Regions from separate parts of the Homo sapiens genome. Here region 1 is linked to region 2. The links come from fine-mapping of genetic effects on gene expression. A gene starts in region 2. The other region holds a variant in brackets. All regions are shown on one strand. Distances are from middle to middle.

Region 1 (16,507 bases), 44 kb after region 2:
AGCACAAACATTTAGTGAGAAGAGTGACATTGTTTTACTTTTTCCCAAATCTCTTTAATGTCTCTCTTAATGGAAGACAGCTGGAGTCTCATAAATGCTTTTGCATTCATTCTGTTGCAGTATATTGTGTTGGTTGAACTATATGGAGAAAATCCAGCCTTACACAGACATGTAGTTAGAAAAGGGAGGAGTGTTTTAATAGCCCTTTCAGTTAATTGTGGATAGTCTTTGAAACTATATCAGAACTTGACCCAGGTGTAAAGGTTTGTTGCAACATAGACTCTGAAACCAATCAATGAACTTTTCATAATGCTGTTACATTAAAGTCTGTTGTCCTATCACATCCATTGAAAGGATCTTTTACACATCATTTTGTAACATCATGCATCATTAGTCATTTGGAAAATATCAAAATATCACATTTAATACCACCGTTTAGAAAAATATCAACATATCACATTTGTTAATGTCATTGCCATTCTCATCTGAAAAGTCTTTAAGTATTGAGATGCTCTAAAGCTGAAAATACTGGATACAGGTTTTCCAAAGTTCTGTTTATTTGTTTTGAGATAGAGTCTCTATCCCCCAGGCTGAAGTGCAGTGCCACAATCTCAGGTCATTGCAACCTCCGCTTCCCGGGTTCAAGTGATTCTCATGCCTCAGCCTCCCGAGTAACTGGGATTACTGACACCCACCATCACGCTTATTTTTGTATTTTTAGTAGAGATAGGGTTTCACCATGTTGTTCAGGCTGACCTTGAACTCCTGACCTCAGGTGATCTGCCTGCCTCGGCCTCCCAAAGTGCTGGGATTACATGCGTGAGCCACCGCACCCGGCCCCGAAGTTTTAATTTTTGCTTGAAAGCCCAAAATTTGTCTTTAGCAACAAATACCGTCAGTTTTCCTTGAAATAACAGGCTCACTGTATTTATTTTTGACAAAGTGTCTATAAATACCCAAATCTGAGTAATCATAGTTTTTCTCAGTCATTCTTTCAAGGAAAGATGGTGTTCTGTGAAAAACAGTGGCTAAGCTTGCAGCTCAGTCACACAAGTACTTTTTCTTCCCAAAGACAACCACCGCACTCTGGCCTGCAGCGGAAGTGCCGAATGAGTGCGCTTAACATTTTGTTACATGGGATATTAAAAAGATGTGTACTCAAGAATCAATATTTAATGAAATTAATAATTTTACTGCTTCATCAAGGACACGCTTAGCTAAGGACAGGCGTGGTGGCTCATGCCTGTAATCCCAGCACTTTGGGAGGCCGAGGCGGTTGGATCACGAGGTCAGGAGAGCGAGACCATCCTGGCTAACATGGTGAAACCCCGTCTCTACTACAAAAAAAACAAAAAATTAGCTAGACGTGGTGGCGGGCACCCGTAGTCCCAGCTACTCTGGAGGCTGAGGCAGGAGAATGGTGTGAACCTGGGAGGTGGAGGTTGCAGTGAGCCGAGATCGTGCCACTGTACTCCAGCCTGGGCGACAGAGCGAGACTCCATCTCAAAAAAAAAAAAAAAAGCTGTGTGTGTGGCAGTAGAGAATATAATGACCACTGATACAGTGAGATGCCACTGCCTTGATTTATGCTAAGCCACCAGTTGTTTTACCTGCTATTGCTTTTGCACCAGCAATGTAAGTGTCAACACAGTTGAAGATAGTTTTGACCTGGCGGGACTCCCAGAAAGGGTCTTGGGCCACACTTCAAAAACCAGTGGGTAAGACTAAACTGCCCATCATTCATCTGCATGCTCTAGATTCTCTCGCTTTCCATATCTTGGCTCCATGCCCCCTCTACCCGGAACATTCATCTTCACCACCACCTCTCCCTCCCCGTGTGTGTGTGTGCATATTCACACATATTTATATATCTACACATGTATAGGTGTGTATGTGTGTATAAATGCACACGTGTGTATATTCAGCATTTCTGGTTATAATCGTGTGCAATGATTTCATCCAGTGGGCTGTAGACTATGGGCCAGGTTTCATATTTATCTTGGTGGGCAGGAGCACCAAGTACCATGTCTGGCACAGCTAATCACTTGCTAAATGTTAGCTATTTTCATCATCATCATCATCATCATCATCATCATCATCATCATTGCAAGGGCTTAATACATTTTTCTTTTTTAACAAACGAAGAGTTTAGGTTAGTATTTCCCATGGTTTCCTTAGAACATTGGTTCTCTGTGATATCAGTAAGTGTTGATGAATGGGCATCTGTGGTCAGCTAGATTTGGGAATGCTCAAATACATTTTTGATTGAAGGATTTTCAAGATCCTTTGTTGTATAAGGTATATATTGTGAATCTTTAAGGGGAATGGGAGGCTATAGAATGTAGCATTTCCAAAGCTGAATAACTTGTGAAACTTCTTTTTTTGGCATAAGTCGTAAAATTAGGTTTCTTGGAATTTTCTTTGGGAAATAATCACATAGTCTGGCCTTTTCATTTTTACAGATGAGGAAACTGATGACCTATATTCATTCTTGCAATAATTTATACCTCAAATATGTAATGAGTACTTCTTAAAGTTAGACACTGCTAGGTTGGGTAATACAATAGCAAGTGAAAAAAAACAGAGTTGGGGAAAGTGTTAATTATACTTTTTATATGGAGTAGATGATTAAGTGGGAGGTACAGACATTAATGAAGTAGTTACTGAAATTAGAACTGTTATGTGAATGGTGTGTAGGAAAGTAGACAGTGCTAAATCATTTGTTTTTTGTTTTACTCATTTTCAAAGCTCTGCCAGGCCCATTTAGGTCTTCCTCTCAACGTTCTGCCACTGCTAGCAGCTCTGTGATCCAGACTGCTGAAGATCAGTAAAGATGTCCATTTGCCCAGCTGCATCATCTGAGAGTGTAGCATGTTGAAGACATGATCTGTTACAGCGTGAGACAACTTTCTCTTAGTGCCTCATGTTTAATAAGTACTTGTACATATTGATAGACTGCATGAAGTATGCATAAACATACTTAGAAAAACCTGGACTGAAAGACAAACCCTACACTGTGGTTTCTTCACCCACTGCCCTAACTCACTGTGCTGTACAGGGGGACTGAATAAAATCATTTCACATGCATTTCCTGCACCCCCTTGCTCTGACCTGGCCCCATTTTGGATGGATCCAGTGACTCTTCCCTTCCCCACCATGCAAAACAGAAAAACACATCTTTCTGTTTTGATCCAGTACTGCCCACACGTTGGGGAAAATGTTAATATACTATTTGTATGAATATATTTAATCAAAGGGCATGATGTTGATACAGTAAAATTGGCCTGTGGTCTGGTGGCTTCCTGGGCAGATGATAGCAGGAGGGTTTTGCGACAGAATAGCCTTGGAGTCAGGACTTTTGTAAGAAGATTAGGTCAGTGTTTGATTTGATGTTTCATTCTGCAAAGTCACCTACAGAGAAATCAAACATTTACATGTTTATTAACTGGTGCTTTTGGTTTTGGCATGTGGCCACAGGCTTTGGGCTGGATGAGCTCTGGGAATGCACAAAAATCTCTCATTCCTTCTCTTGTATGGGTAGATAAGCAGGAAAATATTTACCTTTTCAGGTTATCCTCTTCAAAGAAGCCTGAAACTTCTTCAGCCACATCATCTTCCTGCCAGAGTCTGAAAACCAACAGGCTTTCAAGAGACCAAGGGTTGAGTGGAGTCATTTAGGGAATGACATGTATCCAGGTTGCTAAATTTTTTGGTGTTGCTCTGAGATTGAATTAGGGAAATTCCCATTGAGTTTTTGGACCTCTTGATTTCTAATCTTCTTTGATTAAGTTGGAGTTGCAGAAATATCATGGATTCCTACTTTTAAAATAACTTTTTCTTTGTAAAAATAATTCAGACTAATTGTAGAAATTTGGGTAAATAGCAGAAGGCATAATGCTGAAAATTACCCATAATCCTTCTTCAGAGATAATCACTATAAACATTTTGTTTTATTTGCATGTATTTTTATATGCATAATTAAGATCATTGTGTATAAATTTTGATTTCTTCTTATTCCATTTAACATATGAATACTTTTTCTTGTGTTGAGAGCAACATGGACTTGTATTAGTTTCCTGTTGCTGCTGTAATACATTTCCACAAACAGAGTGGCTTAAAATAGCAAATATATTCTCATAGTTTTGGAAGCCAGAAGTCTGAAATCAAGGTATGGGCAGGACCGTGCTCCATGTGCACAGACTCTAGGGGAGAATCTGTTCCACTCCTTGCTCTCCCAGCCTTTGGTGCTGCCAGCATTCCTTGGCACGTGGTCTTGTCATTCGTATATCTGCCTCAGTTTTCACAGTGTGTGTCTGTGTGTTTGTGTGTGTGTAATCTACCTTTCTTATAAGGGCATGTGAATTTAGGTCCAATCCAGATAATCAAGAATACAGCTTTATCTCACAATTCTTGACTTAATCATGTCTACAAAGACCATTTTCCACCTAAGATAACATTTCCAGGTTTCAGGATTGGGACCTGATATGGTTTGGTTGTGTCCCCACCCAAATCTCACCTTGAATTGTAGCTCCCATAATTCCCACGTGTTGTGGGAGGGAACTGTTGGGAGATAATTGAATCATGGGGGCAGTTTTCCCCATACTGTTCTTGTGGTAATGAATAAGTCTCACAAGATCTGATAGTTTTATAAGGGAAGCCCCTGTCACTTGGTTCTCATTATCTCTTGTCTGCCACCGTGTAAGACATGCCTTTTGCCTTTCACCATGGTTGGGGGGGCCTCACAATGGAACTGTGAGTCCATTAAACCTCTTTTTCTTTATAAATTACCCAGTCTCAGGTATGTCTTTATCAGCAGCGTGAAAATGGACTGATACAGGACCTGACCTCTCTGGGGCCATTATTCAGCCTTCTACAGGGTTCTAGACAATGGACTCTGGAGCCAGACTCTGTGGGATCTAATCTTGAGCAAGTGCCTTAACTCTCAGTACCTCTTCTTTCTGATCTGTAAAATGGGAATAATAGTACCTACCTCCTTGAGTTGGTATACAAATTACAAAGATTAACATATACAGAACACCTAAAAAGCTCAGGTTAGTGGCTGGCCTGTGTAAGGAGTAGCTGTTAGTATTGTATTTGTGATTTTTATTAACAATTCTTTGTTAGATGTCATTTTTAATGGCTGCATAAGAGTTTTTAAATGAATCTACCATAATTTGTCTAATTCTGTCCTTTTGTTGGATAAGTTTCTTTTTCATTTTTTATCTCAGGTATGATGTTGCCGTGTAGCATTAAGTTTTGTTCCTTAGTGTAGAGTTCTGGAAATGGAATTACAAAGTCAAAGGGTGTGTATAGTTTTAAGCCACTTAATGAGAATTTGTTTAATTGCTTTCCAGAAAGTTGAATGATGAGAGTACCTGTTTTACCATGGCCATACCTGTTATCGCATGTTACCATTTTCAATACTCTGAGGTCCTTTGATATAGTCTGCCCTTTAAGCCTGAAATGTACAGCATAGGGACCCTACATTTTGTGTTTCATTCAGTGAGGAGTATTCTGACCATGCAAGAAAACCTCTAACACAAAATGAAATCCTTGCTTTGTGAAGTCACCCCAGTGCCTTCTCCATTCTGTTATGAAGCCTGGAAACTTGCTGGGTGTTTTTGAGGGTAGGGGGAGGGCTGTTGGGGGAAAGGTTGTTAGTAGCAGGGTAATGCTAGGTTTACAGGGACTTCAATAGCATAGTTTTGCTTCTGTTCTCAAATGTGAACATTTAAAACTGAGCATTTGATGGGATGAGGGAGGTACATTTGAACAGAAAACAGATTAATGTAATCACTTTACAACTAAGGCCATGTGAGGGACAGGAGTATGGGGTGGGGAAGGGGTAGCTCCTGCATTGCCTGCCAGATTATCTGGGAGATCAGCCGTGGGAAAGGCTAAGGGAACAGTTTGCATCTGTACTTTGCCCCCTGGGTCACCTGCTAGCCTGCTCTCCTTTCTTGGTGGTGCCCATTGCAGTCTGGTCCTGTGCAGCCCAGGCCTCTGGGCTATAGAGAGGCATAGCAGGGGTTCCAAGTGTGTGTGCTCAAGGGAACCTGCTACATTTGACGTCATCTGGCCCATTGCTGTTCAGGCTATTTAGAAACAGGGTGGCTGTGTTTCCCCAGTGGAAAGGTACAGTATACACCATGTGCAGCAGGTCATGCACAAATTCAACAATACCCAAACCCGCCGTAGTTGGCTAAATGGTGGCCCCAAAGATGTGCTTAGATTAGAACATCCCTGGAACCTATAAATGTTACCTTAATTGGAAAAAGGGGGTTTGCAGATGTGACTAAGTAAGGATCTTGAGATGAGATCATCCTGGATTATTTGGTAGGCCCTAAGTGCCATCACAGATATTCTTATAAGAGAGAAGCAGAGAGAGATTTGACACAGAAGAGAAGGCAGTGTGCCAAGAGGAGAGGGCATATGTCAAGATGGAGGCAGAGGTCGGAATGATGTGGCCACAAGCCAGGGAATGCCAAGCCACCAGAAGCTGGAAGCGGCGACAAACGAGTTCTCCCCTACGGCTTCTAGAGGGAGCATGGCATTGCCTGTTTATTTCAGACTTCTGACCTTCAGAATTAATACATTTCCTGTTTTAAGCCTTCCAGTGATAATTATGGCAGCCTCAGGAAACTCATATACTAGTCTGTGCCCTGTCCAAGACACTTCTGCTGTTTATGTGCTTGGCTCTCTCTTTCTCATATTGCTAGAAAAGCTTCTGAGCACTTACTCCCAATTTCTGTACTTATCTGGTCATGACCCAGCAGCAGAGTTGGCACTGGTTTGCAGAACTCCTGTTGAGTACCACTGATCTAGTCTCTATCATTTTATGAATGAAGAAACTGAGGCCTAGTGAGAGAAAGTGCTATAGGTCTGGGACGAGCAGCAGGTGCCTCTGCTACTTGGAATATTTAGACAGGGCCAGATCTGGGGAGAGCAGATAGCAGAGTTGCCCTTCGGAGGCCAGCTGGTGTCCCTGTCGCTGTTCTGTACCCTGTTCAGTGAAAGCTGATGCTCCAGTGAGCCCCTGGGGCGACAAGCTGCTCAGAAGGCCTAGAAACTAGGGCAAACTGGTAGAGCCTTTGCTGCAGCTACTGAGCCAACAGCAGCAGGCAAAGAACCCTGTCAAGGGTAGAGGTCACGGCTTGCTGATGACTTAATTTCCAGCTGACTGCTTCAGTCTTTATAGACCCTCTAACTCAGGTCATATTTTTCCTCTGGAGCCCAATTTTAACTTTCCATATTTTCAGAATGGCAATTATCTCTTAGAGAATGGGGACTAGACTACATGCTGCTTTGATAAAGTCCAAACTCCTTTACTTGGCATTCATGACTCCTGAATAACCAACTCCCTTCCCCTTTCCAGTTCTGCGTCCCATCCCTCCCTTTTACATACCTTAATCTCTGGACTTCACCAAAATCAGTGCTCCCTAGTAGAAGAGGCTATAAGACATTAGGTTCTTAAATCCCCACAGTAGGTAAGTTTGTGATTGCCCAACTCAGGAACTAATGGAAAAATATGGCGAGGATAGAGGTCGGGCATACATCTGTGAAGCTCTTTGGGAATAAAAAAACAACAACTGTTTACATTTACTGCAAGAGAATATGAAGGCAGCACAGCAGCCAGTACCAACCACTAACATGAACAAAGTCATCTGAGACCATCTGGCCCAGTGGAGCAACCAGATGCCTATAGCCACATACATAAGCCAGGCAAGACCAGAAGAAAAAGCCCAGCTGAACTCAGCACTGATTGCTGACCCACCATACCTTGAAATGAAATGTTTGTTTGAAACAAAACAAAAAGCACGGTAAACCAAGATTTATCTTTACGTATTTTAGTAATGATAGGCATTGTACCATTACTCAATTATGTCTTGCTTGTTATGGACACTTTTTGGAGTCTCCCACCTTTTTACTTTCAAGGGAACTCTTATTTATTTTGCTTTATGGGTAATACCCATACTAAAAGCTCCTTTCCCCCAGTATCTGGGCTTCCAACTTAATATTTAATGCCACTGAGGTTTTGAGTTAATTTGTTGGCTGTCCTCTGTGGCTGTCACACATCTCTCTTCCTTTCCTCTCTGATGTTATGGGACGGTAGTTCGGATGCCTGGGTCACTTTCTCATCTTTTATTTTTCCCAAGGCTTTGGTTTAAAAGCCTCTGTTCCTTCACCTTCCGCGTTTGTTTCTTTTCTAATCCCAAACCTGTATCCTTCATTTTTAAATCAGTGATTTTTGATTGCAGGGAACAGCCATGGTCTCATGGCGGCTTAAGTTAGCAGCGAGTTTGTTGTAGAAATCCCAGGAATACAGGAAGCAAAGCTTGACTGCCTGCTGGGCACAGGAGTGGGAAGGCCCCTCTAACTCCATGCAGGGGCTGCTTGGTCCTGTCCATCACGCACATGCACACATGTGCCAGTGTATCTGTCTGTCTGCCCTTCTGGAGCAGGGCGGTGACAAGTGTCTATCCCTAAGCCAGTTGGGAGAGGGGAACCGTGTGACTGCCCTCTCAGCATGGGCTGAGGGGGTTCCAAAAAAGGAGTCTGTGGAGGGATACCTCCCCAGCAGCTATTATACCCTTTCTTCTAATTTCTCAACAGGAATAACTCAAGTCACCTGTACTGGAAATCAGTTTGCTGAAATTAATCAA[C/T]GATTCTTGAAGTTGAAGAAAAGGTAAACATTCTCTTATAAGGGAAACTCATTGTCTGGGGAGAGGTTACTGTCCCAGTCATTTCTCTCATATGCCTAGTTTTGTGTGTAATATTTTACCCCTTCTCTCTGCCTGGCCAAGTTCCTCTTCATCCCTCAAGATCTTTATCAAATGCCACCTTTGTCCTTTGTGGAGGATCTCCTCCAGGCTGCGGGTGATTTCTCCTGCTGTTGAACCCCCACGACACTTTCTCCTTCCTGTGATGTTTGTGTTCTCGTTTGCCCTTCCCCTGATGGTCTCACCCTTCCTCTCTTGGCCAGTCGGGTAGAGGTCTGTGACACACCCCCCATCATAGTACTTACTTCCACGCTTTATTCTCGTTGCCTGTTTTTGTGTTTTCCCCAGTAAGCTGCTTAAGGGTGCATCTGAGTTGTGCCTGGGACACAGTCGGTATTCCATAAATGTTTCTCGAATGACTCATGAAGGAGCCTCTCCACAAGAGGCCTGCTCCTGTGTGGACCCACATTGTACCCCCACCACGCCTCCCTTACTGGGCCTGTACTAGGAATCATTCTTAAATACATTATGATCTTTGAGCATTCATCCGAAATTCCTGATCTTCGCCAGGTGTCCTTTGGCTATTGGTGAAATGAAGCTAATAGCAAAGCTTTTGTATCTGATACTTTTTTTTCACATTTGATTTTGGACCCATGTTAAGAGCAGGAATCCAGAAGTGGGGAGGGAGGTGACAGGCAGAGCTGGATGCCAGTGGTCACTGGAGCACAGCTCCCCAGCCCCCTTCTCCGCTTGTGGCGGGTGTGAGTGGGGGTTGCATGTGGGGGGCTTTAGGTCTCGCTGTGGTTGTAGCCCCTCCTATCTGCTGCACAGGTGGATCACCTTCTCCATCTGTGCCATGCTCTCGACTGCTTCACTCAGTGACTTTGTGTCTTAACCCACCTCCCTGCCCCCAACCTTTGTCCTTTAAATGAATAAGTCAGCAGGTTCCTTTTCTCAAACTGTTTACTGTAACTGCTAAAGATCCCATAAAAGTTTCTTATTAATTTTATGAGTTTATGCATCATAGCCAGAGGGACAAAGCATAGATTGTGGGTGTTCCCAGAGATACAAATTTCCAGAGATTGTTTTGCGTATTCATCTGCACATTGTTGTCTGGGTTTGACGTGTATTGGGCTTCAGTGTGAGGCTTTTAATATGTATATCCTGTTATCAATTAAGAAATTATCCAAGTGGTTGAATCCTGTGAGACTTCGCAAGTGTGTGCAAATCTAGTATACTTGACTTTTCAACCTCTTCTTTCAATGTAACTTTTATACAAAATAAATAATCAACTGACAGTTCTCAAAAAAAAGAAAATCAGTTTAATTGGTCACCATCATCTTGGAAGACTTGACTCAGCCCTTTCTGCCTAACAGTAACCAGCAACTGTCTCTCACATTTGTAGAGTGCTTTCTCTTTTGCAAGGTGCTTTGACACACGTCGGCAGATTTTCTTCTCCCACCAGTCCTGGGAAGCAGGCAGAGGCAAGTGGTAACTTCTCATTTTCAAAGTTGGGAAATAAGCTCAGAAGTTCAATGTCTTGCATAACATCATGAACTGATGTGAATGGGGTTCAGTTCCCCCCAACCATCTGATCTTGGTACCCCCCTTTGGAAGCCATGGCAAACTAACAGTGTCACAGAACCGTCTCTACCCTCAGTGTTCCTTTGAGGGAGGGGAGTCTTGACCTTCTGTTGAGAGTCTGACCCTGGTGCTCCCTCCACCCTCAGCCAGGCAGCTTTCTTGAAAAAGCAGATATGTTCCTCCTGAGACCTTCCAGTCAGTCTTGAAAGTTTTGTTTTTGTTAAGGCTAATTTAAATACAAGAAATTTAATTAGCTTACATGAATGCTGCATTGTCTTACTCTGAGTAAACTGGAAGACACTAACAGGTTTGATCAGCTTAATTCAGCTGTATCTGATGATGTTCTTTCGCTTCCTTCTCTTTTAAATCATTGCAAATGGTTTCTATCAGTCAAGGCAGCAGAGCACAGTGCTTTATTGCCATGTGGAATTGTTTAGTTAACTGTGATTTTTAAAAAATTGCTCAACTTTTAATGAAAGTGGATTGTCAGGTGACATTTTGATTTGTCCTTTGATGGGGAAATGGGAAAATAGAACCATCATAATAAAAAACCAGCTTCTATTCTAGAAGGGGGGCTATTAAAAGCAGGATGTGATTTCAGTGAATTGTTGTTTTCCTAAAACAGGCCACCATCTCTGGTCTTTTTATGTTGAGAGACCTTCCTCTGATACTCTCTTAGATTAACATTTTCCTGTGGGAAATTCTAACCTGGAATCCCCCAAACAGGTTACTCCCCATAGTGTAAGCGTTGGGGCCCAGGACCAGATACCAACACCCTTTTACTGGGAATCTGAAGCATCAGTATCGAGAAATCTGCAAGCCTATCGTGATGCTTGTAATCAAAGGAAACAGGCTTCACATTTTACTTTTAGTTGTGGCATGATGCAAGCACCATTTTACTGTTAAGGTTATTGTTTTCTTAACCCCAAAGCTGGATCTGCATTAGTGAGGATCCTCATAGAGGCTACCCTCATGTGTCCTGGCTGAGTGGGGTTCCAGGTGCTCCTCAGTGGTTGTGCCCACCTTGAATTGGCACAGTGGCAGGACCTCCGACACCATGAGAGGATAGACAGGGGTCACCTCTGAGGCTGGCCCCAGGACTCCTCTGTGTTCTATAGCATTCTTACACCCTTTATGGCAGTTAGCAAACTTGGTATCTCATGGGCACCTCAAGCTTACTGTGTCCAGATTTTAACTCTTGGTCTACTTCTACCATAGTCCCTTTCTAGGCCTCCTCCCTTCCCCCATCTTATTAAGGTACGTAGTTGTTAACTCACTTTGTCAGGCCAGAAACTGGTACTTCATTTGTTAATACTCATCTTTTTCTTCCCCCAAATCACCAAATCCTAATGATGCCTCTCCTAAAGTACATCTTGAATTCATCCATGGCCTTCCTGTATCCGCCCCCCAAGTCCAAGCCAACATCGTCCTTTGCCAGGTGACTGCCAAAGCCTCTTAACTGACTGCCCTGCCTGCTTCCCCTTTTCTTCTATTCCTCTCATCAATTTGGACCCAGAGCAATCTTTAAAAATTCTTGTCAAATCATGTAATTCCCTTGCTTGAAACCTGTTGGTGACCTCATCCTGCACTTGATGAAACACATAAGCCCAGTGCAGCCCATGGAGTGGACTGCACTGTCTGGGCCCCAGGCCTGGCTACAGAGGCACAGCATTGTTGGCACCATGTTGTTGTAGCTTGTGAGACATTCTCCCCTTCACTCTTGACTTCCTAGGAAGATTGCAGTGACTTCAATTTTCCAAACGCAATAAAATAACTCAGGCTCTCAAAGGTGTACTTAGAATGAATATTGTGTTCTGGGAAATGGAACAAGGAGTGATTTGTTCCTCCAAACACCAGAATAACAACTCCTAGAACACAGAGGTGGACCACTATTTCATTTGTAACCTTAATAAGTTAATAGCCAATAAGTAATCAGCTGAAATTGCAATACTCCTTGCTACTCCCCAAGCAACCTCCCCATCCCCCACCCACATATTTTGACATAAAAATGTGCAACAGCATTTTAGCTCATGAAATCTTGAATGAAACTTGGTTCTAGGTTGGTACAAGAAAAGACTGGCATTCTATTATACAAGGGAAAAAGAAAGCTAAATATTAGCATACAGCTTTCCTTTTTAAATATGTTTTTCCTATCTTGAAGCCGATTTGTTTTCCTTAGTCTTGAGCTTTACTCCTGTGTGTGTCGGAGGTCCTGCGTGTGCTGCCGTGCACACATCTGAAAAGCACGTACCTGAATTTCATCTTAGGCATGATACTCTCCATTCTCAGGCCTTCCCCAAGGTAATTAATGGTAATATTGAAACTCCAGCTGGATGTTTGGTACACTGTGGCCTGATGAGTTACAGCAAAGTTTGTAATGGGAATACCAGCAAAGGTGATTTTAATAGTGTGATGAGCGTTGTGATAGAGTTTATTACCCAGAGTCCTGGGAACACAGAGATGGCCCCTCACTCACCCTGGGGGATGGAAAGTCATGTGACCCTTGAGATGGGTCTTGAAAGAGATGCCAAGTACCAACTGCTTGTTACTTTTTTGCCAAGCAGAAGGAATGCTTGGGAGAATAGGGGTGCAAAGGGCATTTCAGACAGCTGCATGGATAAAGGCCTGGGAGGTCAGCAAGGGTGTGGCATGCCAGAGAACACTGAGGAGGGTCGCTGCTGTGGTGGAGGGCACGGTGGGGTGGGAGTTGAGTGCAAAAGGTAGGCAGGAGCCAGATCATGCAGGTCCTTCCTTGGGGACCAGGTTAGGCAAGGGATTTGGATTTTATTCTAAAGGCAGTGGAATGCCACTGTAGAATTAAATACTAGGGAGTTACTGGACCGGGTTTGTCTTTTACAATAGGGATTCTGTAGGCATGGTCTGTACTAAGACTTCTCCTGAAAGTCAGTGATCTGATTCAGATATGCAAGTCCTTTTATTAGTTCTAATGGGTGTGAGACTTAAAATTCCAGAGACTTGCACATTTTAGGTATGACGGTAGGCTGGATGTTGCTAAGTGACTGACATGTGATTGGTGTTAAGTTAGTGCCCTGCTGGAGTTTCTGGATGATTGTACTCCCCTGGGTTGCCATGCTCAGCAGTGGTGCATTCCAGGTGCCTGCTGAGCATGGACACAGGCGGTTGGATTCCTGCGGGTTTGGAAATGGCACTCTGACAGTGCAACGTCAGTGAGGTCTTGAATTTGTGACAGCAACTTAAAGTTGCTGGGAATCTAGAGGTCTAATTATACTGTTAACTTGGCTTTCTTGTTATTTGGTTAACATTTTTTGGTTGGTGGTTAACCCTGCACTCTGAAGTGATGCATATTTATGCTAGGAATGTGTTTTGGCTTCAAAGTTTATGATAACTAGACTTTAAAACAGGTATGAAATTTAGATGCATCGTCTATATCCCTTTGCAAAAGATGTCTCTGTCTCCCACATTTGCTTCTCTGGTGATTCTTCAGTGTTACTACCATATTATTTTTTCCTGCTAAGGGGAAAATATGTGAGATGAGCAAGGGTGGCATCCCTTGCCTTGCCTCCATGGACAGTGGTTTCGAAAGGACTCAGGAGTGTTTGCATTACTTAAGGCTTGACAAAGCAGTAAGGTGAAGGCAGAGAAACAGTGGAGGAGGCTATCACAATTTCCTCATCAATAAAGATGAGGGCTGTGGGGAAGGAGAGAGGGGTATGTCTGAGAGATGTTTAGGATAAGGGAGAACAATCTGATGTAGAGAATGACAGAGAGGGGTGGTATCTAGGAGATCCCCAGACTTCTGGCTTGGGCAGCATTGGCGAGAGGGACAGTCTTGTATCATCTAGCAAGTAAGTAAAGCAGGCCAAGATGAGGAGGCTTGGAAGTGGGCAAGAGTTTGGCTTGTTCTCCCACTATGTGCAGACAGAACAGCCGTGCATGATGCGATGTCAGAGGTCAGGGTTGGGCTCAGCACAGAGATGTTGAAAGCCAGGTCCTATCTGTACCCTGTTTTGTTGACAGTGGGGAACACATGAACACATTCTAGTTAGAGGACTAAGATCAGACATGGGTTTCTGTGAAATCATTCCCTGGAAATTGAGGAATCAGGAGGCTGGAGGAAGGGAGGCATCTGGGTGGAGATGCTGAGGACTCGGTAATGGCAGGGAGAACATACAGGCATGGGTATGCGTGCAGTGTCTGCAGCCTCTATTTTATTTGGGGGTGGCGTGTGATACAGATTCTAGAGTCAACACAGAGGAGAATGAGCAGCCCTTGGTAAGCTATTAACCAGGAGCAGGTGGGGGCAGCGTGGGGAAGGTGGAGTAGAAGGTGACTGGGAGAGCTCTCCTCTGTTCTGGTGCCCAGGCTTGCCTTAGTTAACAGTGGACCCACGGTGGCCTGAGTGGACCTAAGACTGGAGCTGGTCTGACTCTTGCTGACCTGGAGGCTTCTGTGCAGTCTGCAGTTGGACCAGTGGCAAGATCAATAAACCTTGTCTTCAGTGCTCAAAAGCCTTCTTGTTCTGTGCCATTGCCGAAACCATTCTCATTGACTGGTAAATCAGCTTAAGGTTCAGCAAAAAGGAGGACATTTAAATTAAAGATCAAATATTTATCACTTTGTTAATGACAAATGCAACTTCAGCAGCTCAAGTTCATTTTCTGATGGGGTCATTCCCTTTCTCCTACCCTAAAATAGACTCTTAGGAGACCTTGGAGAACATTGACACACCGCTATGTAAATATTTGATAGCAGCTTAGCTTACTGCCTTTCTTTTGCAAAATATATGAATTTTGTCAGGAATCAAAGGTCTGCAGTGAAGCACACATGGTAAGCATTGAGAGTGCACAGTGTGTTTGCAGAATCCCTTTTGGACCGGCCGTCTCAGCTCCTTGGCTAGTCCCCTTGCTCATCGTTCATCAACTCGTTCTGCTCTGGTCGCCCTGGCCCCTTGCTACCCCTTAAAACCTTCAGGCTGCTCCTGCCTTGTGGCCTTTGCCCTCCATGCCCTTCCCTGGCACCCTCTTCTTTGAGGTCTCCTTGGGGCTTGCTCCAGCCTTTCCTGCAGGCCTCTGCTCTCCAGTCACAGAGGCAGTCCCTTGTAATGCTCTCTGGGTTAAATCACGTCTCCCACCTGGTCACCTTACACTCTTTTGTCTTTCTTCATAGCACTTTGTTCCTTGACATATTACACTTTTATTTGTTTATTTTTTATCTCCCTCAATTGGACTGTGAATTCCATGAGACCAGGAACTTTGTTTTCATTATTCTGTCCTGTCACCAGGACATTACCCAGCACATCGAGTCTGCCTTGTATTTGGTGAATCAATGAATGATCAGATGGACCAGTCAATCAGTTTGTATATTCACAACAGTTAATCAGCTTGTGGCACGTGGTAGGTGCTCAGGAAGTGTTTGAAAGAATGAATTGGTGAGTGAGTAAATGAATCTGTGCATGGTTAGTTGCCAACACTGGTGCTCAGCAACTGTTAGCTGGATAAATGAACGGTTGCTGGAGCTTACTCGCCTGTCTCTGGGGCTAGTCCCTAGCTTCTTTATTGGGGGAAGGCCCGGATGCACAATCTTTGATGTGTGCTATTGTTTCTGTTTGATAAATTCAGTTAGTCCCTCATTCTTTCCGTTTGTCTGCCATCAGCCAGGCTCTGTAATTAACTTACTGTAATTTAGCTGAGAGGTGAATTTTCCATTTTAAAGATGTTATAAACAACTGGTGCTTGTGCATCTTGGTTGTTGATGAAGTTCATGCCTAAAAGAACATGAGGGCTGTGTTACGTGTCTAGGGGAGAAGGGGCTGTTAGCCCACACCTGGCCATAAAAACATGGGGACAGGCTGGCAAGTTCTGGCGAAGTTGTGTTTCTCTAGCTCCAGTGCACCAGCATGCCAGCATGGGGGCCAAGGATCAGGGTCAGTGTGGTCATCTTCCTCAAGGGTCACATTTAACCCAAAGATTTGGGAGAAATAACATTTTAAAATTTTACAACCAATACTGATATTTGTTAAAGGAGAATTCAATATCACTTAGTAGTTAAGAGCAGGCTGTGGAACCAGACTGCCTAGGTTTGACTGTGTCTCACCACTTACTTGCCTAGTGGTCCTGAGCAAGTTACATAATCTCAAAACTCATTTCTCACTTCTAAGGTGGGAGCCTGTGATGCAGTAGAGCCAACAGCACGGGGATGTCAGGGATCAGTGAGAGCCACGG
Region 2 (16,507 bases):
AAATACTCACCTAAGTGCTGCAGCTGAGGGGAGTCAGGAATTCAGAGAGCAGAGTGTGGGTTGGATAGAGAAGGAAGCCCCTGTGGAAGAAGCTGGGGACTCCCTGTCTTGCCTCTGCACCTCTGGGGAGACAGGGCCCCAAGACTCCTCTCTGAAAGCAATGATGCACCGAGAAGTTGCACTTCTTGTCCTGATCATTGTCCGAGACATAGAGAAGCCTTGGGTGAGGAGGACCACGTCCCCAGGAGGTTCCTCACTGGGCCAATACCTGTTCATCTCTTTGGTCAAACTTTCAGATCACTTCCAGAAAGGTCTTCTCTGACCTTTCAATATAAAACTTGTTCTCTTTATAAAACTTTCTCATAGAACCTTGTTCTTTCTCTTCAGCACGCTTAACATCATTTGTAAAATTTGTAATTATATACATTTTTTCTCTCCACTGATCTGTGAGTTTCTCTAGGGAAGGAAAGGAGTATATGTCTTTTTTGCTTTTATATTCACACAACTCGATAAATTGCCTGCATGTACTAGGTGTTCCGTAAATACATGTGAAGTGATTGAAGAGTTAAGTATAGACTAGAAACGTTCTCATTGCTTTCTGATAAAGATGAAGCTCCCTTGGGGAAAAAGACATAGTTGATAGGAAACACCTTTGATGTTAAAAAATGTGCCAGACCAAAAGGTACAGCTGGTATATGAGTCACTAATGAAGATCTTGTGGTTATAGGTTTGAAAGTTAAGGTAATTAAGTGTTATTTTTTACTTTGGGATTTAAAAATGATAGTGGGCTATTTACAGCCTATGGAATAAAAGTGGAGCTCCCCTGCTCCCTTCTAAACACACCAACAGTTCCATTTTTGTTTTTTCTTCTCTGCCACATACTTTCCCTGAAAAAATAAAATAAAAATAAAAATAAAAAAAATTCAGGGTCTCACTGTCACCCAGGCTGGAGTGCAATGGTGCGATAACAGCTCACTGTAGCCTCAAATTCCTGAGCTCAAGTGCTCCTCCTGCCTCAGCCCCCCAAGTAGCTGGGACTACCAGGGTGTGCCACCACGCCTGGCTATTTTTATTTTTTAATTTTTTAAAATTTTTTGTAGAGATGCGGTTTCACCATGTTGCCCAGGCTGATCTCGAACTCCTGAGCTCAAGCGGTCCTCCTACCTCAGTCTCCCAAATTGTTGGGATTACAGGCATGAGGCACCATGCCTGGCCGAGTTCCACCTTTAATGATACACCCTGGGGAGTTGTGATTTTAGTGTGGTCTTACTTTCTCAAGCAAAACCCCCCAAAATTCTGAAAGGAGTTAGAAGAGCATGAAGACAGGCATGTTAATGACGCTCTTATTTCTTTTGAAATAGAAACTTGACATTTGCCAGCAGGGAGAAAGTTGTGGAGAAATTTAAAGGGTTCACTGGTGTTCTTGGCTTGAGAGCATGCTTTGGTTGCCGGCAGCAGGGGTAGAGTAGGAATTCCTTCCCATTCTTTAGCTAGAGACTTAAATTTCAGAAAACAGGGCAGTAAGCATGAAGATTTGGGTTGAACTTTTCAGTAGCGCTCTGGTGCTTTTTTCAAACGAAAGCAGAGATCTTAAAACTTTTCCTTATATGGGATTTCACAGCTTTATGAAAATGGGCATGCTTACTTAATTTCCAAGAATAGGTATAATTTTGTTTGAAGTCTTTAAAAGAATTACTACCAGTGAGAAAAAGACATTTTTATTATAACACTTGATACTTACATAAATGTACAGGACTTCAAGCTCTACGGCTTCTTAAATCCAAGAAGCTGGTAGTTTTCCCTCTTAACTTAGGGAGGGTAAGTTTTACCTCTTGGCCAAACATGATGGTTTGTGTCTGTAATCACAGCACTTCGGGAGGCTGAGGTGGAAGGATCACTTGAGCCCAGGAGTTCAAGAACAGCCTGGGCAACATAGTGAGACCTTGTCTCAACATAAAAAAAAAAAAAATAAATAAATTAGTTAAGCATGGTGGTGCATGCCTGTGGTCCAAGCTACTGGGGAGGCTGAGGCAGGAGGATCGTTTGAGCCCAGGAGGTTGAAGCTGCAGTGAGATGTGATTGTGCCACTGCACTCCAGCCTGGGCAACAGAGTGAGACCCTGACTCAAAAAAATTTTTTTTACCTCTTTCCTAGTTCTAGAAAAGTCTTTCCATAATGTTGGCTTCTGGGAATTCATATCAGATTTAACTTCAGGTAACACCAATCAAGCACCTGAACTATGACCAAAGAGGTTAAGGTTAATTAAGTATTTGAACTTTGTATTTAACCAGGCTTGGGGTGAATTGCTTAAACGTTCTAAGTCTTATTTTCCTTCTTTGTAAAACAGGGATTAAGAACAATATCTCCTCTTAGGGTTAAGTAGCTCCCCTACGGTGGAAGAGTGTTGGGGACACCCAAGGACTCTCCCTGCCATAAGTACACACACATGCATGTGAGTGTACACACACACTCATGGCCACTGACCATAAGGCAGGGGAATAGAGTCTCAGGGCAGGAAAACTAAGGACTTCCTAGAAGCAAATCAAACGGAAAAACCCCAACTTTCTACGACCAAGTAAATAACTCTGTAACTCTACTTCAGCTATGACAGGAAATAACCTCTTCATACGCATAGAGTGTACACCAAATAAATAACTTTGCAACTTCACTTCAGCCTCTTTATTTATGCAGGGTATACACCAAGTAACCAGTGGGAAACCTCTAGAGGGTATTTAAGCCCCAGAAAATTCTGTACCCAGGGCCCTTGAGCCACCTGCTTGAGGCTGTTCCCACCCTGTAGAGTTTCATTTTCAATAAATTTCTGCTTTTGTTGCTTCACTCTTTCCTTGCTTTGTTTGTGTGTTTTCTCCAGTTCTTTGTTCAAATGTTCGAAATGCCAAGAACCTGGACCCTCCACTGGTAACAACCAGACCTCAAGTCCAGGTCTTCCTTGTGGACAGGACAGAACCAAGGCCCAGCTCCCTCCTGACCCACAGCCACAGATGTGATTCTGGCAGTGAAGTCCCCTTAACCCCATGTTTTAACCACTGGAGTTAAATGACTGCCAAGTAGGTATGAGGCAGAAAAGGAAACAGGCTACATGATTAAAACATGAGAAACAACAAAACAACAACAGTTGATTTTCTGATGGGTCTGAAGCCTTTGCAGGGATTGTCCAGGTCTCTGAGATTATAAAGTGAGAATTTCTGAGGCTTTCAGATTTCATAGACCAAAACCATTACAAAAACATTTTGGGAGTGGGAATGGAAACTGAGGCTGTCAACTTTTTATTTTGCCAAAAAATGACCAAAACAAAAAACCCACATCCAAATGATTACAAATATAATAATCATTGATACAAGAATTGCATACATTTAGCTTTACATTGCTCTGATTACTCTCATTTTACCTCTGAGTTGTGAAAAACCTGTCTGTGGATTTGCAGCCATCGGCAGATAACTCTGGAACTTCTGCTACAGAGAATGCACAGCCAGGCATGAACAGGGGCCAAGGGAGTAGGTTTATGAACATACATTCCTGACCTCAGCTCCTGGCAGCTGCAGTCAGGCAGCAGTTTTGAGGGTTCCTACTTCTGCAAACATTCTGAGACATGCAGACCACCATTCTAGGCCTCCCCCTCTTACTTCATTACTTGCATAATTTATCCCTCAAGGACAGTACAGCATAGCACAACACATGGCTTATCTCTGATGCACAAGGTTGTGTTTCTTCATTTATCCTGCACACGAGTCTTTGTCCTCCCCACAGCATCACAAAGGGACCCAGCAGAGAGAATCTTCCACAGCCTACACTCATTATATTCTCTTTGTCTTTTCTCCTTCTTCCTACAAAGTTAATATCACATGGATTAAGTCAGAAGACTCACAAGGCTTATATTATTCATTCATTTGTTTGCTCATTTATTGATTGATTTAATACATATTTATTGAGTTCCTGTATGCACCAGGCTCCATGCTAGGTATTGAAGGTATAGTAGTGGGCAAGCAAACGCAGTCCCTTTTCTCGTGGAGGGAGAATTCGAGAGACACAAACACATGAGAATATGTAACTATAAAAATATGATGAGAACAGTGAAAAAAACAAGGAGTGTCATGAAAGCGTGCAACAGATGGGGTGGTTAAGAAAAGCTTCTCTGAGAAGACGACATTTAAGGCAAGGCCCGAGAGATTATGTAGTGGACATTCACTGGTTTTGTTATCCTTGATCAACTTTCCCTTCTTTGGTAACAATGCCCTGATGATTATGTTTGGAGGCTTTCATTCAAGGTGTCCTGTTCTTCTCTGGCTGAGGGTAGGCATGTGGCCAAGCTAACCAAGGCTGACGTTCTTCTAGGGTTTGGAATCTTGAGTGGAGTGATGCAAAAACAGAAAAACCAGAGTGGCTTGTTCCACTGGTTGAGCCTCAACAAGGTGTCTGTTAGGAATCAAATCTCCATAAGATTCCTGAGCTGTTTGGTCTTTGAGCTTTCCAAAACTTGGCTGAAGAGACTGAGAGCTACCTCTATGTGCACCAAATTTTTTTGTTTACATTATTTCCCAAATAATGTACCACAGAACTCTAATGGGTTCTGGAAAGCGGGATTTAGCAAAGTGAAGAGTTTGGGAAAGAGCACGTCAGTGGAAGGAACAGCATGTGGAAGGGGCTTTCTGTGAAGAAGAGAAGAGCTTGCTGGTTTGGGGAACAGAAAGAAAGCCAGTTGGGCAAAGTGTGCTGAGTGAGGGGCAGAACAGTACCAATATCTCTGTAGGGGCAAGCTGCACCAGACCTCATGGGGCCATGTATAATCGTTTAGATTTTATCACCAGCACATAGGAAAGTTACAGACATATTTTGAGCATGGGAAGAATATTTTAAATAGCAAAAATGTCACAAAGGAAAAACAGAAGAGTTCAACTAACAGCGTAAAGAACTGTGAATTGGTCATCCCAGTTCTGCTCTGAGCCAGCTCCAGGACCTTGGATATTTGTAAGGCTCTGATGATTTCTCTTAGCCCCAGTTTTCTCATCTGTAAAATGAGGTGGTGGGTTAGATGATCTCTAACTCCATCTCTGATGTTTCGTGATCTATGATAAAACCATGCCAATAAATGTAATTGTCATTAAGGAGCTTACAATCAAGTGGGAGAGATAAACACACCTAACCTCTATGATACCTGCTGTTGATGTTCCAGGGAGTTCTAACGTTTAAAGCTTTTGGTAGCTTACAAGCTGATTTTGCCAGCCCATTGTTATGTTGACTGCCAAAGGATTTTAAACAGTACTAGGCTCAGTAACCAATTCAATGAAGAACTTTCAAAGAGGGTATTTACATGAAGTGTGATGCTCTGCTAAGCTTAGATTTAGTGACTTCAACTGAATGCTTCATAACAGAAAACGCTAGCAAGAGTACTGATTCTTGGGTGAATTTCATCTAGAACTTGTAACTGCAGGAGTGCCTGTGAGTGATCTGTGTGTCAGTTATCTATTACTGTATAACAAACCACCCTAACACTTAGTGATTTGAAACAACCACCATTTTATTTCTCACAATTCCTGGGTTGGCTGGACTATTTTTGGCTGGCTTTCCCTGGAGCTCACTCATGTGGCTGAGAGCTGGTGGGCTGCATAGCTGGGACAGCAAGGCTTTCTCTTCTCAGGGTCTTTCCTCTTCAAGGAGTTGGACCAGGTTTCTTCATGGCAGTCTCAGGATAGCATTTCAAGAAAGCAAGGAGCAAGGCACAAGTGCACATCGAAAGCCCCTGCTTGTGTCATATTTGTTCATGTCCCAGTAGCTAAAGGAAGTCACAAGGCCAACTCCAGGGTCAACGTGGGAGGGAGCTACAGAAGGACAACTCAGTAGGGGTGATTCATTAGAAGCCATTAGTGTAAAATGTGTAAACTTTTCCTCTGAGACTTGCATTGCAAGATACACAACTCTAACCTATAAAGGATGACACTTTCTTTTTCTTTTCTCTCTCTCTCTCTTTTTTTTTTTTTTTTTTTTTGAGACAGAGTTTCACTCTTGTTGCCCAGGCTGGAGTGCAGTGGCATGATCTCAGCTCACTACAACCTCCGCCTTCTGGGTTCAGGTGATTCTCCTGCCTCAGGCCTCCCAAGTAGCTGGGATTATAGGTGCCTGCCACCACGCCCAGCTAGTTTTTGTATTTTCAGTAGAGACGGGGTTCATCGTGTTGGCCAGGTTGATCCCGAACTCCTGACCTCAGGTGATCCACCCACCTCGGCCTCCCAAAGTGCAGGGATTACAGGGGTAAGCCACCACGCCCAGCCAAGGATGGCACTTTCACAGACACAATATCTATGTTATTACTACTATAAGGGAGCATGTGGAGTCACCTTATTAAGGGACTGAGTCCTACATCAGTGGCTCTGCTTGCCTCATAAAATTATTCATTAATTTTTAGCAGTGGCCTTGGGAAGTTGTGTACATAATATTTAGAGGAAAATGGCATTTACAATGATAATGAATTAAAGCAATTCACACGGCAGTACCACTGCCCCAATTTAAACCTTGAGGCTTGCTAATTTCATATTTAGCTGCATCCCATATGCTCCCAATCCCTCTGCCCTAGTGTGGAGCTACAGCTCAAACTCCTTTGAAGGTAGGAAACTTACCTCACACACGCGTGTTCCCCTCATTCTTTCAGCGCATAGAACACTAAAAAGATGCTCCTTAAATACATGCTAAATAAACTGATCAATAGTTGCCTTTTATTAAATATCTTTGTGTTTCAGGTATTTCCTTATTTCCTTCACAGACCGGATCATGAATGATCTCCCAATGTGACAAGGTCTTATTCTCCACAGTTTACCGTTGAGGGGACTGAGGTGCAGAAAGCCCAAGGTGTATGCAGCCCAATCCCCTCTGATCCCACTCTACTGCATTGCTGCCTTTTGTACGCAGCAGGAAGGACACTTCCTGTAAAAATGAAAAAAAAAGCCTTAAGTTGTTTGAGAGAGGGTCAGGAAGAAAACAGGAAGAGCCAGTAGACTGCAGGTGCTTTCAAAGGGCTCCCTGTCTTTGACATCCCTAAAATAAAAACTTGTTAATTAAGAGATTGGCCACAGAAATCCAGGTGGAAAACCTGCAGAAGAGTGGGTTCCACAATTCTTCAAAACAGAACAAAAAAACCCCAAGACTTGTTATATTTTTACCGGTGGAGGGGAAGAGGTTACAGGAGTGGCCTTGCTCCCCGGGCTGGCCTTGCTGAGCAGGTGACAATACCACACATATAAAGGTTTTAAGGTGAAAAGGTAGTCAATATTTTACATTTCGAAGATAGTTTTTAAAATCACCTACTGCATCAGTAGTAATACAACAATAACTACCATTTACATACCACCGCACACATCGGGGCTGCGTAAAGAACTTTATAGTGCACCATCTCAATTAATTCTCACAACTCTGTGAAGTAGGTTTTATTATTCTTAATTTATAGACGTGTTCACTGTGGGCCAGGGAGATGAGCTTTCCCGCGATTGCCCAGCTTTTAAGAGGTAGATCTCAAACCTAAACGTGTTTGACCAAAAGCCCTGAATAACATTTAGCCGTGGGCCTCTTGCGGATTTGGCGCTGGTCCGAGGTGGGGAATTGTGAATCTCATTTATTTATGCTGAGCTGCGCACACATATGCACGTGTAAGTTACAAAAAACAAATCCAGGTCAGGATCTCTGTCCGCTTGAGGTTTCAAAGCCTACTTGGGTAGACAGCGGTAAAAGTCTCAACTCATTCATCTACTCGTTTGCTCTCTTCACAAGTATTTATTGCGCACTTCAGTATTCCAGACAGGGCGCTAACCTTGCCCTGGAGGAGAGAATGGTGAACACAACAGACATGGCGTTTGCCTCCAACTATCCCCTTTCCGATTCTGCTATCTCACGGGCGAGGCGTTCAAAGAAGCAGGAAATATATCAACAAGGGGGTGACTTAAGCACCCGCTGCGCGGGAGCCGGAGGAAGCGCGCTGAGCCTGCAGAGGTGGTCAGGGCGAACTTCCTGGAGGCAGCGGCAGCAGCAGGCCGGGCGAGAACCCAGGTCGCTCGGAAGCGACAGTCTGAGCCGGGAACGGGGAAGAGGGGGCGGGAGCCGAGGCCCGGGCGGGGGCAGCCAGCGAGTTAGGGTTAGGACGGGAGGATTCGGCTTCCCGGCGGCAGAGGGCGCCTGGCGCTGCGGTCTGGCGCGCCAGAGTCGCCCGCGCGGGCGCCGAGAGGAGAGGCGAGGCGGGGAGCGCAAGCGGCGGCGGCCACTGCCACGTATTCCCGGCAGTGGTGGCGGCGGCGGCGGCGGCGCCCGCGGGCAGGTGGGCTGGGAGCGGCGCGGCGGCGGCGGCGGCGGGGCGGGCGAGCCGGCGGGCGGGCGCGGGGCACGGGGCACCGGGCACCGGGCGGGGGTGCGGCGCCGGGACAGTACGGTTCCCGCCACGCCGGCTCCGCCTCCGCGCAGTGCTGCTGACCCAGGCCTGGGCGCCCGGCGGGTCCCGAGCGCAACTCGTGCGGGCGGGGTTGGGGGCCCGAGGGACTCGAGCTCGCCTGCCCGTCGCGGCTCGAGACGCTGCATCCCGGTTGCTGCGGGGCGGGGGCTGGGAAAAGTTGGGGCGGACCGCGAGCCCGCGGGGCCGGGCGGGAAGTGCGGGTGCGGGGCGGACTCAGGGGCCGGGGGACGCAGTGCAAAGGGCTTGGGCCGGGGCGGCCGGGAGGGCCCCGTATGGGAAGGTGGGAAACGCGGGTCCTTTGAGGACGCCGAGAAAGGGGTGCGCTCAGGGTCTCTGGGAGTGGACAAGAGTCCGGCGGCGGACCTTGCGGGTGAGAAGGGTCGGCGCCTGGGGGTCGGGGAGTAGAGGTGAGGCGGGGGCGGGATAGAGCCTTCCTCCTCCCCCGTTCTTTCGGGACCGACCCTGAGACCCGGGGCAGGCTCCGAGCTGGGTACGCCTCTGGCATCTGAAGACCCAGTGGGGAGTTCCTGTACGGGGTGGGTGGAGGAGGGAGCTGAGCGTTGCTTCCTCTGCTGCTGGGGCCGACTACCGCCCCTCCCCAGCGGCCAGATTCACCTCAGACTGCAGTGCTTTTGCCCTGAGGAAGTTGAGGAGGGACAGCTGAGCGGATGAGATGTTTGGGGTGTTCCAAGATGAGTGGGATTAGGCTGCATGATATCATAACTATCTCCGGGAGCTGTCAGAAAACACTCCCATGTCCTCATACACCCACCCATCCACTCATCCAGTCAGTACTGCCAAGCTCCAGGCTCCCTTGCTCTTTAAGTGACACCTCTAGATCCCCAGAGCCCAACAGCGCATCTGCTCACAGCCTCGAGGGTGGCAAGGGTGGAAGACATGGCCTGCTAGTGTCTGCGTAGGTTGGTGCTTTCAGAAACAAGTGGTTCTGGAGGTGCTGGATGCTTTATTAGAACAACCTGTGTGGAGCCCGTTGACAATGCAGATGACTCATGTTGGCTTTTTTTTTTTCCCCTTTACAAATAAACTTTGTATTCAAGACACCAGTATGCCTGGTCATTTGCAGCAGTGATACGGCAAGAGACCCATAGTGGGCTTCTTGAGCCCTTATTCTCGTCCTAGATGTGTTAGCAAGAAGTTTGACCTTGGATGAGTCACTTGCTCTCTCTGGACTTCTGTTTTCTTATCTGTCACATGGGGTATAAAGAGAGAGCTCGACAGTGTGATGTAGACAGGAGTAGGTTTCTGAGGGACACAGTGAAATCTTTTTTCTTGTAAGGCTGGATCAGCCACAGAAAATAAGCCTTAGCCTGTTCTTATAAAGAAATTAGCTTAGATTTAAAATAAAATATGAGAAGAAATATTGCAAAAAGCAAAACAACAAAAAACTAATAGTAGTTGGTACTCGATTTACAACATGAATACTGTTCTTATGCTTGCAGTTAGTGTACTTGGTTGTCCAGCTATCTACTATAAAGTTGCTCATTGTGCTTAGAAAGTGTGTATTTCACCTGTGGACCCGAATTTTTTCTTATTGTTTAATCTTCAAGCTTGGAGTGGACGCTCAAGCTTGGAGTTGGATTGGTCCTGCTGGGGTTTGTCTGAAGAACATCCTCAGGGTCTCTCATTGCATAATATTATAGGTTTCCTTCTGTCTGACTGATGCTGGGGTCCTTGTACAACTATGCTTCTGCCATCTTTTCCATTCTGGCTTGAGAAGTGGTGAGCTGGTTCCTCTTGCCTCTGGCATGCCCAGACTTCTCATTTCTTTTCAGATGAGTGTAGTAAAAGGCAAGCAGTGAGTTAGAGGCAGCACATTAAAAATTGCTCCAGGCAATCATCTGTGTCCCCTCCACCCCGCTCCTGTCCCCTAGACCCCCTGGGCAACTTCTCACTAGAGCTTCCTGGTCATAAGCTGGCCTTGACATTTTGGGTGCTGAGGGCCATCACAGCATTGAAGTGACTTGGCCAGGGTCACACCACACATTAATGATCAAGCCATGGTGCTGGAAGAAGAGGAATTTTTTTTGTGTGTGTATTTTGTCATAACTGAATGTTCCTGTTCTTGTCCATTAGTAGCTTTCAAAATCCATATTGGGTTTGACCACATCATTTTCAGTAATCCTTTTTTGTCAGCTTTTTGGAAGCTGCAGTTAGTGGTTCTCTCTGAGTTTGAGGTAGTGGTATTTTATTATTAAACAATTTTTTCCAAATATTTTTTAAACTACTTTCCTTTTCAGACCAGATGAGGTAGTGTTAAAAATGATATCTTCTCCAACAAGTAAAGGCTTGATTAATTAGGTTGAGTCTTTAAAATATCTAGTGTTTGTGTGTGTATAAATTTTACTTTAATTGAGAAGTATTGATAAAAATCATAATCGTCACCATTTGAGCCCCTGCCATTGAGCAGGCATTGTGAGGTAGGAGTGAGCATCATTTTACAGGAGAGAAAACAAAGCCAAGAGATGGCACGACTCTGGTACAGCTGTCGTGCATAAGTTACTGATGATCTTTCAATCCATGTACCATTTTGTTAACAGTGGAAAAGGAATTCTCAGCTATCCTACAGGGTTGTGCTAGTTAAATGAGATACTGTATGTGAAGAGCAACAAGTAAACTCTTAACGGGCTCCCTAACCCAGCACATTTTAACATAAACACTTGTAGACTCTGGAAGCAGTGTGGTGAAGTGGTTAAGTTCAAGCGTCTTGGGAGTCTGGCAGGCCTGGGTGTAAATACTGAACCTGCTGCCTGACCTCTCTGAGCCTGGTTTCCACATGTGTAAAATCAGGATAATACTGTCTGTCTTATATTCAAGAAATGTACCCACTAATTGCAGTGGGTGCTGAGTAAAGATTGGCATCCACTCCTTTCCCTTGCACACAGGTACTTGGGTCAATGGGATTGAGTAAGTCTTTCAGCAGTTGTCCTCAGGGGGAAAAGGCTTAAAGTACTTTTTGTACTTATCAATGATTCTTCTAGCCTTTTTGCCTTCCCACCCTAAGCCCCAGCACGCGCAATGAATATTCCAGGGCCTGTGATTGTCTTGTCCAAGGGAATTGAAAAAATCGTAAGCCAGAAAGGACAGGTCTTTGATAGAAAGTTGAAAATGGATGTAGCTGGTTTCCCTTTGCCCATTTTGTGGCCTTCCTCCTTTTTTTTTTTTTTAAATTAATTTTGTTGGACAGGGAAAAGATACAGAATTCAGGGGGTTCTAGCTGGAAGGGGGCCCTGGAAGAGCCTATAGTATAGGGCAGCTAGAGAGAGGAGTGGGCTGGCTGACGGTCAAAGCTAGTTTGGTGTGGGGGAAATTTCTGTTAGATGCAGGATTTGGCTTAATATGGGACCAATTTCCATCTAGTCCTTTAAGGCCCTCTTTTGGGACTCTGAAGTTTTTGTGCTCCAGGCAGATTTTGACTGGTTGTGGTGGCATCACAAATGAGTTTCCATAGTAAATTGTATGCTGAAAGGAAATTAAATTCCAAGAGGGTGTTTGTTGTGACTGATGCCAGAATTTCCTCTGAGAATTTTATTAACATTCAGTCTGTGAAAGTACTTCTTAGTTCTCTGAAGATAATAATTAGGAAATAGTTTTTAAAAAGTAGAAGTGTCGTCTTTGTGAGCTTTTGAAATGTCATCTTCCTAAATCTTTGGAGCAAATGAGGCTCAAAACATCATAGAGACTTATATTTTAAAAGCATTTCTTCCTAAATGTACTGTTTTCCTTCTCTTCCTGTTCCTTCCGTCCTCCTACATTATTTTGATAATGAGTTAATTTTGGTTTCTTTCACATTGTGGTGGCCTAATTTTTAAATTTATGACCCTTCATTTTTAGATCTTGCATGTATTTTTTTTTTTTTACCCTTGAGTCAATTCTCATTGATTATGAAGAGCTGGTATAGCAAGATGGGAAAGAGAGAGGACCCTGGAGCTAGGTTGGTGAGATCTAGGCTCTTTAGAACTTGGATTCGGTCCTCACAGTAGCTCTGGGAGGCTGATCATGCTATTCCCAACACACAGATGTGGAAATGGGTGCAGAAACACATGTGTGTTCACATAGCCAGCAAGTGGTTTATCTAAGTGTCACTGCAATGATCTGTAGGACTCCAAAGCCCATGCTTCCAGCTGGAAAGGCAGGCAGGGGCCTTGCATGCTGTGCCAGGGTTGGGACTTAGTCCTGTAGGCAGAGAGGGTCAGGCCTGTATTCTAGAAAGGTAGCTCGGTGGCTGTCTGGAGTTTTGAAGTGAAGCAAGTAGAAATTAGGTGTAGAGAAACTAGTTCATTAAAGTAATGTCTTGAGAGATGAGGGCCTGAACAGAAGACATTAAGACAGTGGCAGTGGTTGCGGAGAAGAGGGGGCTTGTTGGAATCCATAGAGCTTAGTGCCTTTGGATACTAGAATTGCATCATCCCTTCCCATTTCAGGTCTGATGCCCCAGGGATGGGTGTTGGAGATGCTGACTATGTGCAGGCTAAAAGCAATCTCTGCAGAAACCAAAAGTGCCTCCTTTGGTCTCTGCTAACAGCTAGAGAAAGGTGGCTGAGCACAGTCCGAAAGGGCCTTCCCTTCCCTGTGCCACCCCAGCCTTATCATTCCTAACTTTCCAGGAGCATCGCAGAGAATGAAGTTGGATTCCTCAGACTGCATTTTGGGAAATGCTAGTCAAGGTTAGAAGTGTGGAAGGGAAGACGCCTTCCTGGGGTATTGTCTGCACACCCCTCTTCCCTGGTGGCACAGGGGACCCACCAGGGTTTGGTCCTCAGTTTTGGCTATTCCATAAGAGTTGATCTGCCCTAGATGGGGTTAACTTGTGGTCACCAAACTTGCAGGGGTTGACTGGGAAGCAGGAGTGGCAGTGAACATAATGGCCAGCCCCAAGAGGAGTCGAGGCCAGCCTCCTCTGACGGGTGCAGTCTCTGCGGGGCGCCAAGCCATGCTCAGGGAAGCGGGCATCAGAGCCCAAGGAGATGATTGGCTGGGGTCTGCATGTCCTGTCATCGGTAGGACGCACTGTTGCCATGTCAGGAATATACTGGTTTTGTGCCCTTTCCCCTAGTCAGTGCCAGACGTGGTCATAAACTTGCTTTTGGGCTTCCGTTTTTCCAAATTGTGCAACATCCCTGCCCTTCTGAGAGTTTGTGCTGGCTCTGGTCAGGCCGGAGGTCAGGTGGTCAGATTCTGGCTTTATTTGGGCTGTGTTCTCGCTGCGAGGAGGAAGCCAGGTTACCTCTGTTGGACCTGCCTGCTCCCAGCATCTCCAGCAACAAGCTGTCTCTGCCGGTGAGTCACTCCGTGCAAGAGTCTGCTCACCCACTTTCTGCTTGATGTTTACACTTTTCCCTCAAAGAGGGAACCTCTTCTTGTTCTGAGGGCACTTCTCGGCAGTCCCCTAGAGTGTCCAGTTGTTTCTTTTGTGGGGTAAGAACCCGTGCCAGACAGGTACATGTTTTAATGGGAGAAGAGCATTTCTGCCTGTGGATATGAGCTGTCATGCCTACCTCTTGAACATTATGTCCTGAGCAAAGCCCTTTTCTCGTTCTTTTTGCTTCGTGTTTAGGTGCGTGTTTGGGTGTGTTTGCTTTAATTATTACTGGGAAGCAAAAAAGATATTTATCAAAGGTTTAAATCTATAGCAGTGCCCCTGCAAGCAGAAAGAAGAAGTATATATTTAGCCAGGATATCATTGATTTATCACCCTTTTTTCCATTTTGTTCCTGTTTTGTTGGCAGGACCATCTGATTTGTATACTGGTTCAGTTTGGATTTCAGTAGTGAGTGTGAAAAGATTCCTGGGCTGTTTGCCGAAGTGGAGGGACTCAAATGCGTGGGCTTCAGGGCTGCCAGTCTTGGCTGTCCCTGCAATCCCAGGAGCCTGGCACATGGTGCCTTTGTCAGGAAGGTGGAGTTTGGCCAGGCCGTTTCTTTGGCTTTGCCTGGGAGCAGCTCTGCTGGTGACAGTGGAGGCCTCCCTCTGCCGTGGGAAAGGGAATTCTCTCTTGATTCCGGTTTTGGCTTATTTCTCATCCTATAGGGATGAGAGGGAGGAAGGCCCCAGAACTAGTGAGTTTTGGTGATGAGCAGGTTCAGGGTAGGACTGGTTTGCAGCTTCCACAGAGCTTTTACAGATGTTTTCCTTGCATCCCACATTTTCCTTCTTCCTTGTTAGTCCCAATTCAGTCTGTCATCAGTACTGCAGAAATTGGCTTGAACTTTGTCAGTCTTGGGAAGACCTGGAAGTGCAGCATAGAAACCTGTTCAAATTGGTGCAGCAATTTCACATCAGCATAAGTAGCTTGTTTTGGTGGTGGTGGTTTTTTAATCAGTTTAGGTGCTTTTTTTCTGAAATCATATAGGTAATATGTAAATGTATTCTCCTGCAGCCTGCCCTTGCATTTAAATAGTGCAGAAGGACACAGCAGACTTGTCACATTCCCCTTCACCCAGCACCCCTCCCCAGGTGCCAGCTCCTCCAGGTCCTCAGAGATAACTGGTGTTAGCAGTTGGATCCGTGTCCTGAAACTGTCAAGCCTGTATACACAAATACACTATGGTTTTCCTTCTTTTAGAAGCATGAATCTGATTGCATCATACTGCTTTTTTCACATAGTATATTTTCGAGAGCTTTTCATGCATGTAGCTCTTCTCTGTTCTTTTAATTTGTCTTTTATTTGCCTACAAAATATTTTCCAGTGTAGTTATGTCATAATTTATGAATTGGTCCCCTACTGGTAGACATATAAACTAACTCATTAGTTTTGCTATTATATCTTCATTCATACATATTAGTATGCACATGTTTCTCTAGGAGTAGAATTGGCATGTCAAATGTTAAATTCATTTAAAATGTTGCAGCAGTACCCATACTATGCTCTCAAGAGATGTGCTAGTTCCTGTTGTCAGTGGTAATGGGCTGCCATTCCCCTGGGTGAAAGAAATGGATCATTGTTCAGTAGGCATTTCATTTATTATTGGTGAGGTTGCAAACCTCATCATTTGGCTTCTTTTTTTTTTCTTGATAAACAGACATGTTTAATGATAGCTTGCTCTTCACAGAGATGTCTACGGAGACTTTTTATCTATAATCCAGGAGTATATAACCATGCAGCACAGACCAATTAGCCAAATGCAAAATAAACTAGATTCTTACCACAACTATCCTATAAACACTGCAACTATTCTTTCCAAAAAGACCCTAATCTTATGTGAAAACACCTACTGTGGGGGAACCAGAAACCTAGCTATGTGGCCAAAAGGAAAAAATAGCAATTCAGTGGTTAATTGGTGAAAGCAGGAAATGTATGTCCTTTACTGTGCTGCTGTTGCTGCTGCTGCTGCTGCTTTGGTCTTCTTAGTTTTGTTCTTTTTGTCTCTCTTCTTCAGCCCATCCATGTTAGCTCTCAGGAGGTTTGAATAAGCCATCTGAAACTTATTCACTTCCTCGGAGCTCACCACTGTGCTGATCTTCTTTTTCCCATCGGTAGCTCTTAACAGACACTTGTTGTCTGCAGGCTCAAAGCCCTCCACAGTACCTTTCTTTGGAATGGATTTGGTTCGACTGTCATACTTCTTCAAGGTGATATGATGCTGCCTGATGTCCAGCACTTCTGGAAAAGTCTGGTCAGCTCCGTCAGGAGCTGCTCGCTCTCCAACAACACCATCGCGGCGACTCTGGCTCGACTCCCTCTGCTTAAGCCCCTAGCAGTGAGAACTGGTTATTTGGCTTCTTGATTCTTATTGCTGAGATCGTAGATGTTAAGAGTGGTGGGTCCATAGCAACTATAGAAGATGAGGGAACCAAACCCTCAAGGACCATGGCTCAGCTCAGGGTGGTGTAAGCGTCATGCCACCAGTGGTGGCATTGTGGTACCTGGAAGCAAGAGCTCCTGATTTCACATTCTCTGTTTCTCCCGGATGCTAGTTATGGTAATAGGACATTTTAATTTTGGTGTAACTTGCCAGAGTATTTCTCCAAACCTTTCATCTGAGGAATCAAGGGTCCGTAAGTATTAAGATCAGTCTGTCCTGTGCTGCTGAGGCGTGG

What was found. PIP is the estimated chance that this variant, and not a neighbour inherited with it, causes the effect.
Region 1: its variant is fine-mapped to the expression of SMCO4 in whole blood (TOPMed, PIP 0.95).

Annotation. Positions count from the first base shown.
Region 1 is chr11:93,491,455-93,507,961 of GRCh38, reverse strand. It overlaps SMCO4 (single-pass membrane protein with coiled-coil domains 4), which reads left to right. Exons shown (of 3, transcript NM_020179.3): 2 at 8,614-8,686. Among named protein-coding and RNA genes, the nearest start is that of SMCO4, 44 kb to the left of the region's middle. The variant C/T (reference allele first, on the strand shown) is at 8,664.
Region 2 is chr11:93,535,086-93,551,592 of GRCh38, reverse strand. It overlaps SMCO4 (single-pass membrane protein with coiled-coil domains 4), which reads left to right and starts at 8,202. Exons shown (of 3, transcript NM_020179.3): 1 at 8,202-8,317. It also overlaps the pseudogene SRP14P2. RefSeq lists silencers at 8,002-8,131, 8,292-8,341, 8,472-8,711 and enhancers at 13,383-13,929, 15,523-15,592.